Regions from separate parts of the Homo sapiens genome. Here all the other regions are linked to region 1. The links come from fine-mapping of genetic effects on gene expression. A gene starts in region 1. Each other region holds a variant in brackets. All regions are shown on one strand. Distances are from middle to middle. Region 1 holds the start of TCEA3 (transcription elongation factor A3). Region 2 overlaps ASAP3 (ArfGAP with SH3 domain, ankyrin repeat and PH domain 3). Region 3 overlaps ASAP3 (ArfGAP with SH3 domain, ankyrin repeat and PH domain 3).

Region 1 (2,758 bases):
CAGCACATGGCTACGGATGGTGGGAGGAAGAGGACCCTGGAACAGGAACGGGAGGTGGGAAGGGCATGCTCACCAGGCTCCCTTTTTTTCCCTCCCAGGGTGAGCGCAGGCCCTCCAGGACCCAAGGCCAAATTTGCTCTGGCCAGGCGACCAGTCGGCCGCCAGCCCCAGGCAAAGATCACGGGGAAGATCAAACATTAACTTCCAGCTGGGTCTGCGCTCTGGCCAGGACCCTCCGGTAGGGCTGTCAGCCCTGCTCCCAACCTCCCGCCGAGCCCGCTCCTCCCTCCGCCCTCGCCCTCGCTGCACAGGCCTCCAGCCCGGCCCCCTTCCCCCGCCCCGCGGGCCCCCGCACCTGTTCGGCCCCCGCCCGTCCGGGCCGCACCCCAAGGCCAAGGAAAGGGAAAATTGCCAAAAGAACCGCTCCTGACGCACCAAGCGGTGGGGTCGCAGGATCCACGGCCTTTTACTTCTCTCCCGCAGACCCACTCCGGGGTGCAGGGATGCAGCTCAGTACCCCCGTCAGCCCAAGTTTCTCTGCCACTTCTCGGGCCACCCGGATTTGCCCCCCGCCCCGCCCCCGCCATCGCCGCCGCTCCCCGGGCTTTGCACACGCCAAGCCCTGGGACTCCCAAAGTCCTTTCCCACGTCCAGCTCTCTTCGCCCGCTTTCCTGGGCCCTGCACTAGCTGCCCAGGGTGAACCCTACACGTCCAAAGGGACGTGCACAAGTCGCGCCTCCGGGACCCGCACGATCCCCCTGGCGTCCTGGGCCACGCACACGCCCACCTCGAGGTGCTCAGCAAGGGTCCCCAAGGGGCCTTGGGCCCTGCACCAGCCGCTCCTCCCTCGGGTCCCCGAGTCCCGTACGCGCCCCCATGGCGCCCCGCCAGTACGTCCCCACCCCGGAATCCGGGGCTTGCCCGCGCCTCCCGGGGGCGGGGGCCGTGGCCCAAACTCTGCAGCCTCACCGTGTTCTTCCTGGCCACCATCTTCTCCAGCTTTTTGGCGATCCTCAGCAGCTCCTCTTCCTGGCCCATGTTGGCCCGCGACGCCCGGCGGGGCGAGGGGCACAGGGGCAGCAGTAGGGCCTCGGGGGCAGGAGGCGCGAAGGCGGAGGGCGCGCAACCCGCGCGGGCCCCAAACACACACGACACACACGCCCGGCGGGGGCGGGGCTCTCCCCACCCCCACCCCCCCACCGCCCGCCTCCCAACTGTGCGGGGGAGGGGTGGCGGGCACTAAATATAGACTTCAAGGACTTGCCCGGGCACTGATTGCCCGCGCCGGCCGATCGGGCCTCAGGGGAGGGACGAGGCTGAGAGAGGGGACCCTCCAACTCCGGCCCTTCCAGGGGCGCCGGGGGACCGAAGAGAGATTTGGGAAGGAGGGCTCTCTGGCGAGCTGGGAGGCTGTGACCTGGCCACAGGCGGCGGTCGCGGCGCGGAGGGCGCCCGAGGGTGTCCCAGGGGCCCTGGGAAGCGTTCTGGGCTCCCGCGTCTCTGCACCGTTGCATCTCAAAGCGGGAGGACACAGTTCCGCGCCTATGCCCAAGTGGAGGCAACTCGGTGCGCTCGAATCCCGTGTGTGTGTGTGTGTGTGTGTGTGTGTGTGTGTGTGTGTGTGTGTGTAGATCACTAAATCCAGCTCTGCTTTAACCTGCACTCACTCCATCGTGCACACGGCCTGTGCATGCCACGTGTATCCAGGCTCCTGTTTGCCTCTGTCTACCTAAAACTTCCTTTGCTGGCTGTTTTGTTAGTAAGGCTTTGCATTTTTAACAAGCTCCTATGTGCTGGGGGTGCTGCTGGTCCCAGAACTACACTCTCGAGTAGTGAGAGCTTATCGGGGAGATTCTTTTTATTTTTTTGAGACAGGGTCTCCCTCTGTGGCTGAGGCCAGAGTGGAGTGGAGCAATCAGGCTCACTGCCTCGACTTCCCCAGCTCAAGTGATCCTTTCTGCCTCAGCCTCCTGAGTAGCTAGGACTACAGGCGTGAGCCATCCATCATGCCCAGCTAATTTTTTAATTTTTTGTAAAGACTAGGTCTTACTACGTTGCCCAGGCTGGTCTGGAACTCCTGGTCTCAAGCGATCCGCCTGCCTTGGCCTCCCAAAGTGCTGTAATTACAGATGAGATTCTTTTTTTTTTTTTTTGAGACGCAGTCTCGCACTGTCGCCCAGGCTGGAGTGCAGTGCCACGATCTCGGCTCACTGCAAGCTCTGCCTCCCGGGTTCACACCATTCTCCTGCCTCAGCCTCCTGAGTAGCTGGGACTACAGGCGCCCGCCACCACGCCCGGCCAATTTTTTTGTATTTTTAGTAGAGATGGGGTTTCACCATGTTATCCGGAATAGTCTCGATCTCCTGACCCCGTGATCTGCCTGCCTCGGCCTCCCAAAGTGCTGGGATTACAGGCGTGAGCCACCGCACCCCGCCGAGATTCATTCTTAAGTGCACCAAATTTTGAGAAATATTGATCCAGGTGCAAGGCTGCCAGGTCAGGCCAGTATCCCCTCAGTGGGGTTGGGTTTGGAAGTCATCTTAGTGGAGGGGTGGAAACACAATTGTGCCTATCTTCCCCAGCCATGCAGGGATCTGCCTTCCTGTGGAATGATCTCCAATGATCTTCAAGTATCTCCTGCAGACCCAGTTCTCTTGCTAAATAAGTGAGTTTAATGGACAGAAAATGATCTTCCTGTGATGGGGGTGGGGCTCAGGAACCTGGAGGGAAGGCATGAAAAGTGGTCCACAGTGTGTG
Region 2 (2,758 bases), 40 kb after region 1:
AGCCTCCCGAGTAGCTAGGATTACAGGTGCCCGCCACCATGCCTGGCTAATTTTTATCTTTAGTAGAGACGGGGTTTCACCATGTTGGCCAGGCTGGTCTCAAACTCCTGACCTCGTGATCCGCCTGCCTCGGCCTCCCAAAGTGCTGGGATTACAGGCAGAAAAATCCATTCTCTGCTTAACTCACAGAATTACTGTGAGGCTTAATGAGATCACAAACATGGCAAGGCTTGAGGCATTTGGAAAACATGAGTATGGTTCTTACTGTGGTTTGTTTTCTGCCTCTGTGTGAGATCAGCCCTCGTTTCCCATGAAACTGGATAGATGAAGGAAAAGCCAGGTGTGGCGGCTCCCTCCTATCATCCCAGCACTTTGGGAGGCCAAGGTGAGAGGATCGCTTGAGCCCAGGAGTTCAAGACCAGCCTCGGCAACAAAGTGAGACCCCCACCCCGATCTATACCAAAAAAAAAAAAAATTTTTTTTTTTGAGACACAGTCTCTCTCTGTTGCCCAGGTTGGAGTGCAGTGGTGTGATCTCGGCTCACTGCAACCTCCACTTCCCAGGTTCAATCGATTCTCCTGCCTCAGGCTCCTAAGTAGTTGGGACTACAGGTGCCCGCCACCATGCCCGGCTAATTTTTGTATTTTTAGTAGAGATGGGGTTTCGCCATGTTGGCCAAGCTGGTTTCAAACTCCTGACCTCAACTGATCCTCCTGTCTTGGCCTCCCAAAGTGCTGGGATTACAGGCATGAGGCACTGCACCCGACCATTACAAAAAATTTTTTAAAAAAGTTAGCCAAGTGCTGTGACACACACCTGTAGTCCCAGCTATTTGGGAGGCTGGGATGAGAGGAGCCCTTGAGCCCAGGAGTTCGAGGTTGCAGTAAGCTATAATCATGCCACTGCACTCCAGCCTGAGTGACAGAATGAGACACTGTCTTAAAAAAAAAAAAAAAAAAAAAAAAAAAAAAAAAAATCAGCTTCTGGGTTCAGGTGGGCCCATTTAATCCCTGATAGTCAGAGATTCTCAAGGTGGGGGCCCTCAACCAGCAGCAGGCATCATCCAGGAACTTGTTAGAAAAGCAAATTCTCCAGCTGAATCAGAAAATCTGGGGGTGAGGTCCAGCAATCTGTGGTTTAACAAGCCCTCCAGGTGATTCTAATGCATGCTAAAGTTTGGGAATTACTGTTCTAATTCTCTTCAGAGATGCAGTACATCATCATTGCTAAAAGTATGGGGCTGTCCCCAAACTACCTGGATTTGAATTCCAGCTCCACCAGGTACCTGATGTGATCTCTCAGTCCCTCAATTTCCCCATTCATAAAATGAAGATGATAATATTGCGTACCACATAAGGTTACTGGGGAGATTAAGTAAATTCTATAGGTAAAGTGCTTAGAATACTGTCCACTATTTGATAACTAAAAATGTTATCTACTTCAAAATTAAATTGAATTTGGTTTAGGAATTTCTCAACTTTCATTGAATTAATTAAACATATCTCCCCACACCCCCAACTCCATGTTGATCCTCGTCAGCAAGCTGTGGGGAAGCACAGGTGGAGAGGGACCACAGCAGACCTCTGCCGCCGGGCAGGGAGAGTGCAAGCAGCATGTCCCAAGTGCCTGCTCTGTGCAGCCTCATTACTTGTCACTATCCTGGCCACTCTTTGAGGAAGGCATTGCCATTCCCATTTTAAAGATGAAGCTGTCAGGAGGAGGAACATGTCCAAGTCAC[A/C]CAGTGATGAACAGTGGCAGAGCTGTAACTTTTTTTCTTTTTTTTCTTTCTTTTTTTTTGGGGGGGGGATAGACTCTCACTCTCGCCCAGGCTAGAGTGCAGACACACAATCTCAGCTCACTGCCACCTCTGCCTCCTGGGTTCAAGCGATCCTCCTGCCTCAGCCTCCTGAGTAGCTGGGTTTACAGGCGTGTGCCACCATGCCCAGCTAATTTTTGTATTTTTAGTAGAGACAGGGTTTCGCCATCTTGACCAGGCTGGTCTCGAACTCCCGACCTCAGATGATCTGCCCACCTCGGCCTCCCAAAGTGCTGGGATTACAGACATGAGCCACTGCACCTGGCCCAGAGTTACAATTTAAATCCAGGACTAGCCAAATCCAGGGCCAATGTTCTTTCCCCATCTCTAAGCTGCCCCACAAAGTTAGGGGGCACAGCTTATTTGATCTTGGGACTGGATCTGCCTCCAAACCTAAATCCCAATTCTACCACCTCTACCATATTCCCTCACCATCCCCTCAGGCTTAGGAAAGGGAGAAGGCAGGGCACAGAGGGAGATCTGTCCAAGGAAAACAAGGTTGACAGCAATGGTGAGGCCCCGAATACAAACACTGTAAAGGATGTCCTACTGAAAAGAAAACGGATTTGTTCAGGCTGGCCTCAGAGAGGATTCCCAGGACTGAGAGGTGGAAGTTAGGGAGGCAGAAACAGACTTCAGCTCAAACAGGGGACATTTCTAAGGAAGAACAGGCCACCCCTGAAGGCAGTGAGCTCCCTGTCACTTGAAGTATTCAAATACTTTAGGTGCTAGAGAGTGATTCAGACACTGGATTTTGGATTAGAATGGACAGCTATTTAGATTTCATTCAAAGCTAAGAGTCAATGGATCCATGCAAGAGCCTGGCAGGCACTGGGCAAAGGTGGCTGAAACACATCTTAGTGTAAGAGACACGTCTGAGCTTGGAAAGCCCACTGGAGTCCTTTGGGCAGCCTACCCTGGCTGGCCCTAAACAAGGCCTAA
Region 3 (2,758 bases), 24 kb after region 1:
AGGATAAGGGGGAACCACTGTAATGACACCTAGTCCTTGGATAATATAATGCATAGGAAACAGTACAGTTCCTGGCATATGGCAAGCCCTCAATGAATGGTAGGATTATGATGATTCAAGTGATGGCAATGATGACAGAGTAGTAAATACTGGTGATCCCTTTTAGATAATTTTTTTCAGCATATGGTACTTTCTTCTTTCTTTCTTTTATTTTTTGAATGCTAGTAGAGATTAAAAGATGCTACTTAACTCAAGGTGTAGATAAGCCGTGAAGTACACAACTTTGTCAATGTACTTCAGCTTTGACAAAATGTACACAGCTGTGACAAAATGGCTTTGTCAATTATCACAGTTCTGTCCCTCAGCCTCAGCTAAGATAATTCATAGAGATTTTCCCTACAAAGTCTGACATAGTCATTCTGAGATGACCTAATAGCTGGGGAGTGCTTTTCTTCCCCTATAAAATAACAAGTCCCATTCCTTCCCTATCCTCAAAGGATCACCAACATTTTTAAAACATTTCTAAAACATTTCAAATGTTAGAAACATTTTTCTGTCTTATGAGTGGAATTGCAATAGAAGGAATGAAATGAAATAGTGGGTGAAAGTACTTAAATGCTAGTTACTAAGACCGAGATCATTGCAGAAGGAGACTACAGCAACAGTCCAGTGTTATTCATGGGATGGGTACAGGTACTCCTGGTGCAGGCAGGAAAGTATTTAAATACCACACACCCACCAACCTTGAAACCTTGAGCCACGCTTAGGTGGCAGGGATTCCTCACTACTTACCTATAAATTGGGAATAACAATAGCAGCTTTCCCTGCCAGGGAGAATAAATCTGGTAATAGATGCAAAGACCTTACTCCACTGCCTGGCACAAAGGAAACTCTAAAGTAGAAGCTGCTATTATTACTAATTATTATTATTATTCTTTTTTAGAGACAAGGTCTAGCTCTGTCTCCCAAGCTGGTCTCAAATTTCCTGGCCTTAAGCAATCCTCCTGCCTCAGCCTCCCAAGTAGCTGAGATTACAGTCATTAGCCACCATGTGTGGCTTCTAAATATATGTATTATATTTATTATATATGTATTATTATTATCAATTTTTTAAATAGAGGCAAGGTCTCACTATGTTGCCCAGGCTGGTTTCGAACTCCTGAGCCCAAGTGATCCTCCTGTCTTGGCCTCCCAAAGTGCTAGGATTACAGGCTCCTAGTTATAATTTTTAGGCCCAGGCACTCTGCTAGGCCCTTCATATGTTAAAAT[T/G]ATAGCCCCATAAGGCAGGATCATTATCCCATTTTATAGAAGAGGAGCCTATGGCTGAGATAAGTCATTTGTCCAAGTCACACAGCTGTTAAGTGGTGGGGCCAGGAGTTGAACCCAGGACTGGCTGGTGCCTAAGCCTTAGGGGCAGCCCAAGCAACCAACACTGTGACTCAGGTTTGTTCCATTCCTCCTTCCCTGCCTCATTCCTGCGAGCTGCTGACAGTCACACTGTTTATTTTCTGAGAGATAACAGTCTCTCTCAGAACAGGGACCATTTTACAGATGATGAAGCTGAGATCCAGAGAAGGAAAATGGCTTGCACAAGATTAAAAGCTGGCTAGGGTAAATGCTACCAGCAGATGTGTGGGTTTCTGCCTGTCAATCTCTTCCTGTGTTATTCTGGTCCTAGTTCTGGCTCATATAGGTGGTCAATAAATACTTGCTGAACTGAAGTGCTGAGTGCTTTATATGCACCGTGCTTATTCATCGCCGCATTGACCCTGAAAGGTATTACTGTCCCTATTGTACAGATGAGGAAACAGACCTGTACATGGAACTGCCTAGATAAATTTGGCCTCTGTACAGGGCCCGGGATGCCTTTCTCAGCAGCCCCACGTGGAGAGGTAATCCTCCTCCTATATGAACAGCCAGGGGTGAAGCTCCCAGTGGTATTTGACAGATGCTATCAGGGCCCTGGGCCCTTCCAGCTGGGGCTCAGACTTGTTTGGTAGGAATGTGGTGAAATTACATAGGAACTTACGGCTCACGCATATCTGGCTACACCTGGAGCCCGTATGAAAAGGAGTGTACAGTCACCCGTGCCAAGACATTAGCTCAAACTATGTGGCTCCATGGTGGGAGCCAGGAGACCACATGGCAGAAATAGCACTAGACTCAGAAGCCCTGGGTTCTAGTCCAGGTCCTATCGATAACTCACCGAATAACCTCAGCCAAGCCCCCTTTCCCATCAACTAAATGGAGTCTGGCCTGTAAATGAAATGCTACAGGAAGGCTCAATATAGAAACCTAGGAAAAGCAGACCTGCTTTGGGAAGGTCAGCAGAGTAGAGCTTATTATTTCTATTTGGTAGACGATCCCCGAAAGTCTAACGGCTTAGTTAAGGTAACTCAGGAAGAAGAGGGCCATGTGGCCCCACAGCAAATCATGAAGACAAGGTCAGCCTGTGCCCTCACTACCCGTCCCTGGGCCTCCAGTGAGAGCAGATGGCCGTGCCCCATCACAGGCAGGGATAGGGCCCCACAGGGATGGCCACACAGTGTCTACACCCTTCATCACAGGATCTATGCCCACAGCTGGGGCTGGAGATGCTTGTGCAGGGACAAGATGTGACCTTGCCTCAGACTTGGAGCGGTGCCATGGCTCTGGGAGCTGAGGGAACAATAAAAAGCTCCAGGATCTACTTCTTGAAATTGATCCTGCAAAAATAATTATGAGTAGGGACAAATATTTAAATCCAAGGATGCTTCTC

Evidence for each region.
Region 2: its variant is fine-mapped to the expression of TCEA3 in whole blood (TOPMed, PIP above 0.99). The same link has a PIP of 0.9 or more in blood mononuclear cells and left ventricle.
Region 3: its variant is fine-mapped to the expression of TCEA3 in whole blood (TOPMed, PIP above 0.99).

Annotation. Positions count from the first base shown.
Region 1 is chr1:23,423,595-23,426,352 of GRCh38, forward strand. It overlaps TCEA3 (transcription elongation factor A3), which reads right to left and starts at 1,154. Exons shown (of 11, transcript NM_003196.3): 1 at 971-1,154. The coding sequence starts at 1,039. It overlaps LOC124903875 (a long non-coding RNA gene), which reads left to right and starts at 1,272. Exons shown (of 3, transcript XR_007065535.1): 1 at 1,272-1,567; 2 at 2,584-2,666.
Region 2 is chr1:23,463,719-23,466,476 of GRCh38, forward strand. All of the region lies in intron 1 of ASAP3 (ArfGAP with SH3 domain, ankyrin repeat and PH domain 3), which reads right to left. Among named protein-coding and RNA genes, the nearest start is that of ASAP3, 19 kb to the right of the region's middle. The variant A/C (reference allele first, on the strand shown) is at 1,739.
Region 3 is chr1:23,447,534-23,450,291 of GRCh38, forward strand. All of the region lies in intron 5 of ASAP3 (ArfGAP with SH3 domain, ankyrin repeat and PH domain 3), which reads right to left. Among named protein-coding and RNA genes, the nearest start is that of TCEA3, 24 kb to the left of the region's middle. The variant T/G (reference allele first, on the strand shown) is at 1,270.